Linked DNA regions of Homo sapiens. The protein of the gene in region 2 interacts with the protein of the main gene of each other region in a pairwise test. Each region holds a gene or a part of one and is shown on either strand. Other genes may lie near its edges. The genes, in order: SH2D3C and SNCAIP.

What was found.
Region 1: the proteins of SNCAIP (region 2) and SH2D3C interact in a two-hybrid assay, tested with the Homo sapiens proteins (one large-scale study listed by BioGRID).

What each region holds. Positions count from the first base shown.
Region 1 is NC_000009.12:127,768,667-127,772,166, forward strand, and holds part of SH2D3C (SH2 domain-containing protein 3C), read right to left. Parts: intron 2,629-3,500; exon of another isoform or gene 2,564-2,628; coding exon of another isoform or gene 2,520-2,563; intron 1-2,519. UniProt on the Homo sapiens protein: Acts as an adapter protein that mediates cell signaling pathways involved in cellular functions such as cell adhesion and migration, tissue organization, and the regulation of the immune response.
Region 2 is NC_000005.10:122,318,737-122,322,236, forward strand, and holds part of SNCAIP (synphilin-1), read left to right. Parts: intron 1-2,554; exon of another isoform or gene 2,555-3,098; intron 3,099-3,500. UniProt on the Homo sapiens protein: Isoform 2 inhibits the ubiquitin ligase activity of SIAH1 and inhibits proteasomal degradation of target proteins. Isoform 2 inhibits autoubiquitination and proteasomal degradation of SIAH1, and thereby increases cellular levels of SIAH.

The DNA.
Region 1 (3,500 bases), on a different chromosome or scaffold from region 2:
CAAGGCCAGCAATGGCTCCCGTTTTGCTCAGAGCCAAAGCCAGGTCCTTGCTGGGCTCTTCCAGGCCCTACGTTATCTGCTCCCATTTCCATCCCAGCCTCCCAGCCCACCCCTCCCTGTCCTCCCCACCTTGCTCTGCCCCGGCCACAGTGGTCTCTACTGTTCCCCAAACATGCCACGTCAGGGCCTTTATACACGCTGTTCCCTTGGCCTGGTATGCTCCTTCCCAGCCAGCAAGAGGGTTTGTCCCTTCGTCTCCTTTGTTCAAACACCACTTCCTCACTGAGCCTTTCTTTCTGGCTAACCTTCTTAAATTGGCACCACCAGCCACTCCCCACTTTCGCCAACCAATTCTAGAGCTGATTTTAAATTTTCTCGTTAAGGCTTTTCTCTTCTAGTCGACCACAGAACTCATTTATCTTGTCTATCTTCTGTCTCCCCTGCCCTGGAATGGGGACTCCATGAGGGCAGGGTTTTGTCTGCCATGCTCACTGCTATCTCCCAGGACCTAGAACAGTGTCTGAGGCATAGCTGTACCTCAGTCAAAATGACAATGAATATCATTCCCATTCAACTAACTGCATCAACTCAAGCAAGTTATTAGCCTCACAAAAATCTCAACATCTTCATCTGTAAAATGGGCTCCTTTCCAGAGAGTCATGGGAAGTCATTTGAAATAATGGTAGAAAAAGCTGGCTGGGTGCGGTGGCTCACGCCTGTAATCCCAGCATTTTGGGAGGCTGAGGCGGGCAGATCACCTGAGGTCAGGAGTTCGAGATCAGCCTGACCAACATGGAGAAACTACGGCTCTACTAAAAACACACACACACACACACAAAATTAGCCAGGCGTGGTGGCGCATGCCTGTAATCCCAGCTACTCGGGAGGCTGAGGCAGAAGAATTGCTTGAACCCAGGAGGCGGAGGTTGCGGTCAGCCGAGATCACACCATTGCACCCCAGCCTGGGCAACAAGAGCAAAACTCCATCTCGAAAAAAAAAAAAAAAAGAAATAAAGAAAAAACAAAAGAAAAACTTTGAGATTTTTACTTGCAGGAGGGGAAATGTGACCTAGTGGTTTAGAGCTTGGGCTTAGTCAGGCCTGGGATCAAATAGTGAGGCCTGACACCCAATTTCTCTGTGACCCCAGGAGAGTCCCTTCCCCTCTCTGAGTCTCAGTCTCCTCACTGGCAAAATGGAGCAAGTAGAGGCTCCCACCTCACACCCCAGTCTAGTGTTGAGCTAGACAACACCTGTCAGGTGCTTGCTGGTTGTCAGCTGGTGATCATGCCTGGTGGGACCCTCGCCTGACAATTCCAGTGTGGGTAGGCGTGGGGTAGGGAGTGCTGGGGCTTCCTGTCCCTCTCTAGGCCTCTGCTTCCTCCTCTGTAGGATGGATTGAGGAGGGAGGGTGCCTCTCTGGGACCTGCAGAAGACTGAAGGTCCTTGGGAGGTAGGGGGCAGGCTAGGCTGGTGCTTTCCTTTTTTAGCCAGGGGAGCTAAAGGTCCCTCCTCCCTCCTTCCTCTTCATCCCCATGATCTCAGCAGGGAACAGGACACCAGGAAACCCCTGCAGCCTCACCTCTTCCCCTTCCTTCCTCCTGCTCCAGGTGCACCCTGTCTCCCCGGGGTGGGGGAGGGACACTGTCTCCCCAGCTTAGGCCTGGGATGGCCTCCTCTAGACACTCAGGAACAGGGCCCCCGAACTTGCTCACTGGCATTTCCCAAATGTCCTCCCCAAACTGAATGGATCCTCAGAGACCATCTCAGGCCCATCTGGGCTACTGGGGAGACTAAGGACCAGAATGGGGCAGGGCTAGTCTGAGATCTCATGGGCCAGGCTGCTCCCCTGACTCCAGGGCACAGGGTTGAGGTTCAGGGACTTCTGGAAGGAATGTTCAACAGTCCCTGGAGGGCAGATGGAGCACTGGGTCCCGGGGCACCAGAAGGGGGCTCAATCTGGTCTGCTAACCCCATCCTCCTCGGGACACTCCAGATGCTGGAGGAGAAGAGTCTCTTCATTTCCTTGGTCAGCTCCTGGCTAAGCATGATGCCAGAGGCACTGTTAGGCCCACCAGGGCTCTGTCCACAGGGGAAGAAGGCTTGGGCTGGGTCCTGGACTTGCCATTCTCAAGGTTTCTCAAGACCACCTTTCTCAGCGGCCCTGGCCCTGCTGGAGAGGAATGTGCTGCCCAGGTGTTAAGAGCATGGGCCAGGAAGCTGGGTTTAAACCCTGGTTCTGACGCTCACTGGCTGTGTCAAACTCGGCAGGCAAATCTTTCTTTCCTCATCTATAAAATGGGGGTGATAGTAGTACCTCCCTCCTGGGGCTGTTGTGTAGAGTAGATAAGCAGATGCCTGACCTGCGGTGACAAAGTTACACCCAAAGAAAACTGGCTTAGAAAAGTCCCTGATGCTAACCCCGCCCCCAAATTTGTCAGCTGCCCCAGGGGTGCAGATTTCCTCCTTCGACCTCTCCTGCTCCCCGCTGGCCCTCCCCAGGCCCAGCTCGGTCACTCACCCTCGGGACCCCAGCGCGGGGCACCTTCGGCCCACAGCAGTCATGCTTCCCCCGCTGTCGCCGCCGGCAACCCGGGGACCTCCTAAACCCAGCGGCTCCTGCCTTTCTCGGGCCACTGAGCTGCAGAGCTCAGTGCCGGACTCCGGGGGCGGAGACTGACCTGTAGACCACGCCCCCAGACACGCCCCTGCGCTCCTTGCCCGGCCCCACTCCACCGCCTACTCCACCGGCAGGGAAGGACGCTCTCCGCCTCGAACACGGCCCTCCGCCTGCGGTCTCGCTCCGCCCCCTCCCCATCAGTCAGTGTCGGGAAGGCCTCGCCCCCTAGCACACCCCTCCGCCTCGCCCGCCCGGCTCCAACGCTCGCTTCCCCAGCAGCTCTCCGCGCAGCCTGGGGTAGGCCACGCCCCTAGACACGCCCTCAACTCCGCCTCGCCTCGCCCCACCCCGCCCCGCCCCGCTCCCGCGAAACTCGGCTTCCCTGGGTGGGAGGGGCCAGGCTCCTGGTGCAGTCTCATACCTTGGGGTGTCTTAGAACGCCCCAGGACCCATCATCAGGCCCTCTCAGCTACATACAATCCTTGGTCCTTTACTCCCGAATGAGGACGAATGTAGGAGGGGATGACAGAAGGCAGCCGGGGATGGTGGAAAAACATGAGTTCTACTAATCGTAAATACAGCATTCCCATTTACTGAGTGCAGCATGCCAGCCACTGTGTTGAGATTTTACAGGTATGTTATTCTTGAATCCTCACCACAACCCGACCAGGTAGATGCTATTGTTACGTCCATTTATCAGATGAGAAACTGAGGCTCCAAGAGAGGAAGAGATTTGTCCAGTCATGCAGCCAGTAAGAGGCAGAATCTGGACTGGATTCACTCTACCCCTTTACATGGTCCTCCTCACTGATCAGGGGTCTAGGCAATTACAGCTCAGAGACAGAGGCTGTGCTTGGTGTCTCAGGAAAAAGCTGCTCAAGA
Region 2 (3,500 bases):
AACCTTAAGGAGGAGGCTGGAAAATATCAGTGACCCAGAGTAAATCTCCAGGCTAAAATCTATGGGTCAGAGACCAGATAAGGAATCCTTTTCCCCCTATCATCAGAGAGGATATTTAATAATTAATATTTATGAGGCACTCTGTTTTGAGTACTTAAAAGATGCCTTACAATTACTTTCTTATTTAGTTCTCACAGCAGCCCTAGGTAGGAGGCGTCACTGTTATCATCTTTTTTTTTTTTTTTTTTTTTTAACAGATGAGGAAACAAAGATTTAGAGATTTGAAGCAGTTTGTCTGCCACTAAGCTCCTTCCTCCTGGCGACTGCCAAGTGGCCAGACACTCACCTGAGTTGTTGAGGAGTAGAATAAAGCTTTGATTGGGCTCTTCCCATTCATCTGTTATTTTTTGTTGTTGTTGTTTTTATTCTAAGATGAGTAACCATCATCTTGAGAATAAAACATTATAGCTGCCTTCTTTGGTCATCAATCCTATAAAAAAAAAAACTATGGAAAAAGGTGTATTTAAAGAGGTAAGGGCTCCAGTACTATTGTTGAAATTAAGATCAGTTTCTTACTTATAAATTCCAGTCATCTTCCTGTGATACTGCTGCTGCCAGAAAATAAAAGCGTCTTATGGAAGGAAGTTGTACTGCTGCATATAAAATGCAGGCCTCTTGAGGAGGCACAGAAAAGCTTGGTTTTGAGAGTCATTCACAGAGCTATTCCATAGATAAATAGAAGGAGCTAAACACTTTGGAAGCCACAGAAACTCAATAGTTCTTAAACTGTTTTCAGTCTGAGAGTCTTAAGAGCATCATATGAAAGCTATGGATTCTTTCCTTGAAGAGAAAAGATGTCCACACATACCCCGCTTTGTATTTAATTTTAGGGATTTCAAGGATCCATTGAATCTCGTCTGTGGATTTCCTGGGACTCCTTGGACTCCAGGTTAAAAAATCTGTTTTAAAAGCTGATGCAGAAGGAAGATATTAGCCATTGTTGAATGTTTACTGTGTTTGACATGTAACCATTTATTCAGTGTTTACCGGATGCCAGCCCTTTTTGAAAGGTACATTATAGCTAAGCCATGCATTATGAGTCCAGTTTTAAGCCATGGAGGAGAACGAGGTTCAGAGAGGGAACTCACAGTCTCCCACTGGGAAAGTACTGAGAATAGAATTAAACACAGAACCCAGGTTTGTATCACCACTACTTCATGCTGCTTCCGCACTCATTCATGCAACCAAATGAAGCTTAAGACTTGTGCCACTGAAATTTGGATCCTCTGTTGGTCCTGACTTCCCTCAGCCTTCAGCTTCTCTTGTTAAAAGTAAGTTAAGTGGCTGCTTCTGCCACAAGAGCTTCCTGGAATGTGTCCAGTGCAAGAGCAGTCAAGGGCTGGGAAGGTCTCACCTCACTCTCCTCCTTCACCTGTGACAATGTTTTCACAGTGGGACAGATAACATCATTAGAGTGACAGCACTACTGGTTTGATCATCTCTAGGTAAGTTTCTACTTCTTACTCATTTCCGAGTACAGTTTGCACACTTGGAAACTTTAACTTAACAGATGCTCAACAGCAAAAATGACTGCAAATTCTCCATGTGACCCCTCTTCCACAGTATTTATTGAGGCCTGTATTCTGGGCTCTGTCCTCTAAGTTGCGGTCACAGCAGTGAGCAGACAGATGTGGGTCCTGAGCTCATGGTATTTATAGCTAGCTTATATCTAGCTAGGAAGGGGGCTAATAAATAATCGAAATAAAGCGTGGTAAGTGTTATGAAAAAGGAAGTATCAAGAATTTATTCTATTCAAGTTTCTTCATTCTTTTCAGCTTAAAAACTCTGATCACAAAACATTGTATGTTTCTCCAGCCCTTTCTTCCCCCAGGATGTTTAGAGTGCTTCAGGTTTCCGAAAACTTAGTTGACAGAGTCAGGGGGATATGCAGGCCAAGCAGTTAATCTCAGTCCCCGCTTTGCAGATGAGAAGGCAACAGTGACCAAATGACTTAACCACAGATGGAGTGAAGACAGGGGTAACTGCTTGGTCTGGTCCCCAGTAGAGCATTGCTCACTATAAACCACAAGCTGCTTCTAATTTATTTGAGATGTTATTATCGTGGCCTTTATATTCTGGTCTCTCTTGCTGCAAATGAGTCCGGCAGGCAAGCACAACTCAGAAAGCAAATTCACCTTCTTTGTAGCCCTTGATGGGTCGGTCCCCCTGTTGTCTCTTTCTCATTCCATAGGCATTTCCCCCACTCACCCTCTTGCCCTGAGACCGCCTCCCCAGATTTTCTCCTGAAGCATTGTCTTGTGACTGCACCAACCTACACTGGCAGATAGAAATGTAATAGGATCCATGAATGGGAGCCATGCAGGCAATTTCATATTTTATAGCAGGCGCGCTTAAAAAAGTAAAAGGGAACAGGTGACATCAATTTTAATAATATATCTTACCCAATATAGCCAAAATGGTAGCATTTCCATATGTAATCCATATAAAAAATCATTAACCAAGTACCTTACATTCTTTTTTTCCCATATTACATCTTTGAAATTTGGTGTATGTTTTTTACTTACCTCAATTCAGAATGGCCACATTCCAATGTGGCCACAGGTGGCTGGTGACCCCTGCAGTGGACTTCAGGCTTGGACTCTGAGGAGACCCTGGGATGCCTAAGACAGACTTAGTGACCACCTCCTCAGCCTCCCTCGACACTTAGCTCAGATCTTTATTGCTGCTCCAATAGAAGGTTCACAAGGTTGTTTTCTCAAACCTGGGTTCTTGAGGGAAGGGAATATGTCTTTGTCATCTTTCTATCTCTCATGTAGAGTGCAGTGTTTAGAAAGCCCACCATTGGCAGTGGGTACATGGTGAATCATTAATGAACAAAGGAGGGATAACTGTAACTCCAGGAGTTGAAGGGCTTGGTATATGGAGGCTTACCTGTCCAACCCCTGCTCCCTGGCTCTGTTCCCCCATCGCAGGGGCTCCTGTTTCAATCTCCCATCTTTGTCCAGTGCTGCAGAACCACATTGGAGTCAGATTGAATGGACAGGAGGCATCTCCAGTCACACATCTAGGCTTCTAACCTAGAATTGTATTGAGACTGTATACACCTTGTTTAGTTTTTGTTTCACCTCTTTTAATACCAAATACTAGAAGAACTTATAAGCAGTCTAGTATGTGAAATCATAAGTCTTATTCAACAACATGGAAAAAAAAAACAAAAAAACAGGACAGACCAAACACAAAAACAAAAACTCGTCCAGTGAACAAGCCTCCTGTTGAGATTGCAAACAAGGCCAACTGACATATATAGAACATTAAATATACAAGAGAAGAGTAGCCTGCATCAGGGAGCTGTTAGAGTCATCACGATGAACTTTCTGTTTCCAGTGGTTTTAGAGTCATCACTACTCCCTCTGAGAGAACTGGAGATTTATATCCTATGTCAATTTGCCTTTGCACATGCAGTATTTAAATTTTGCAAG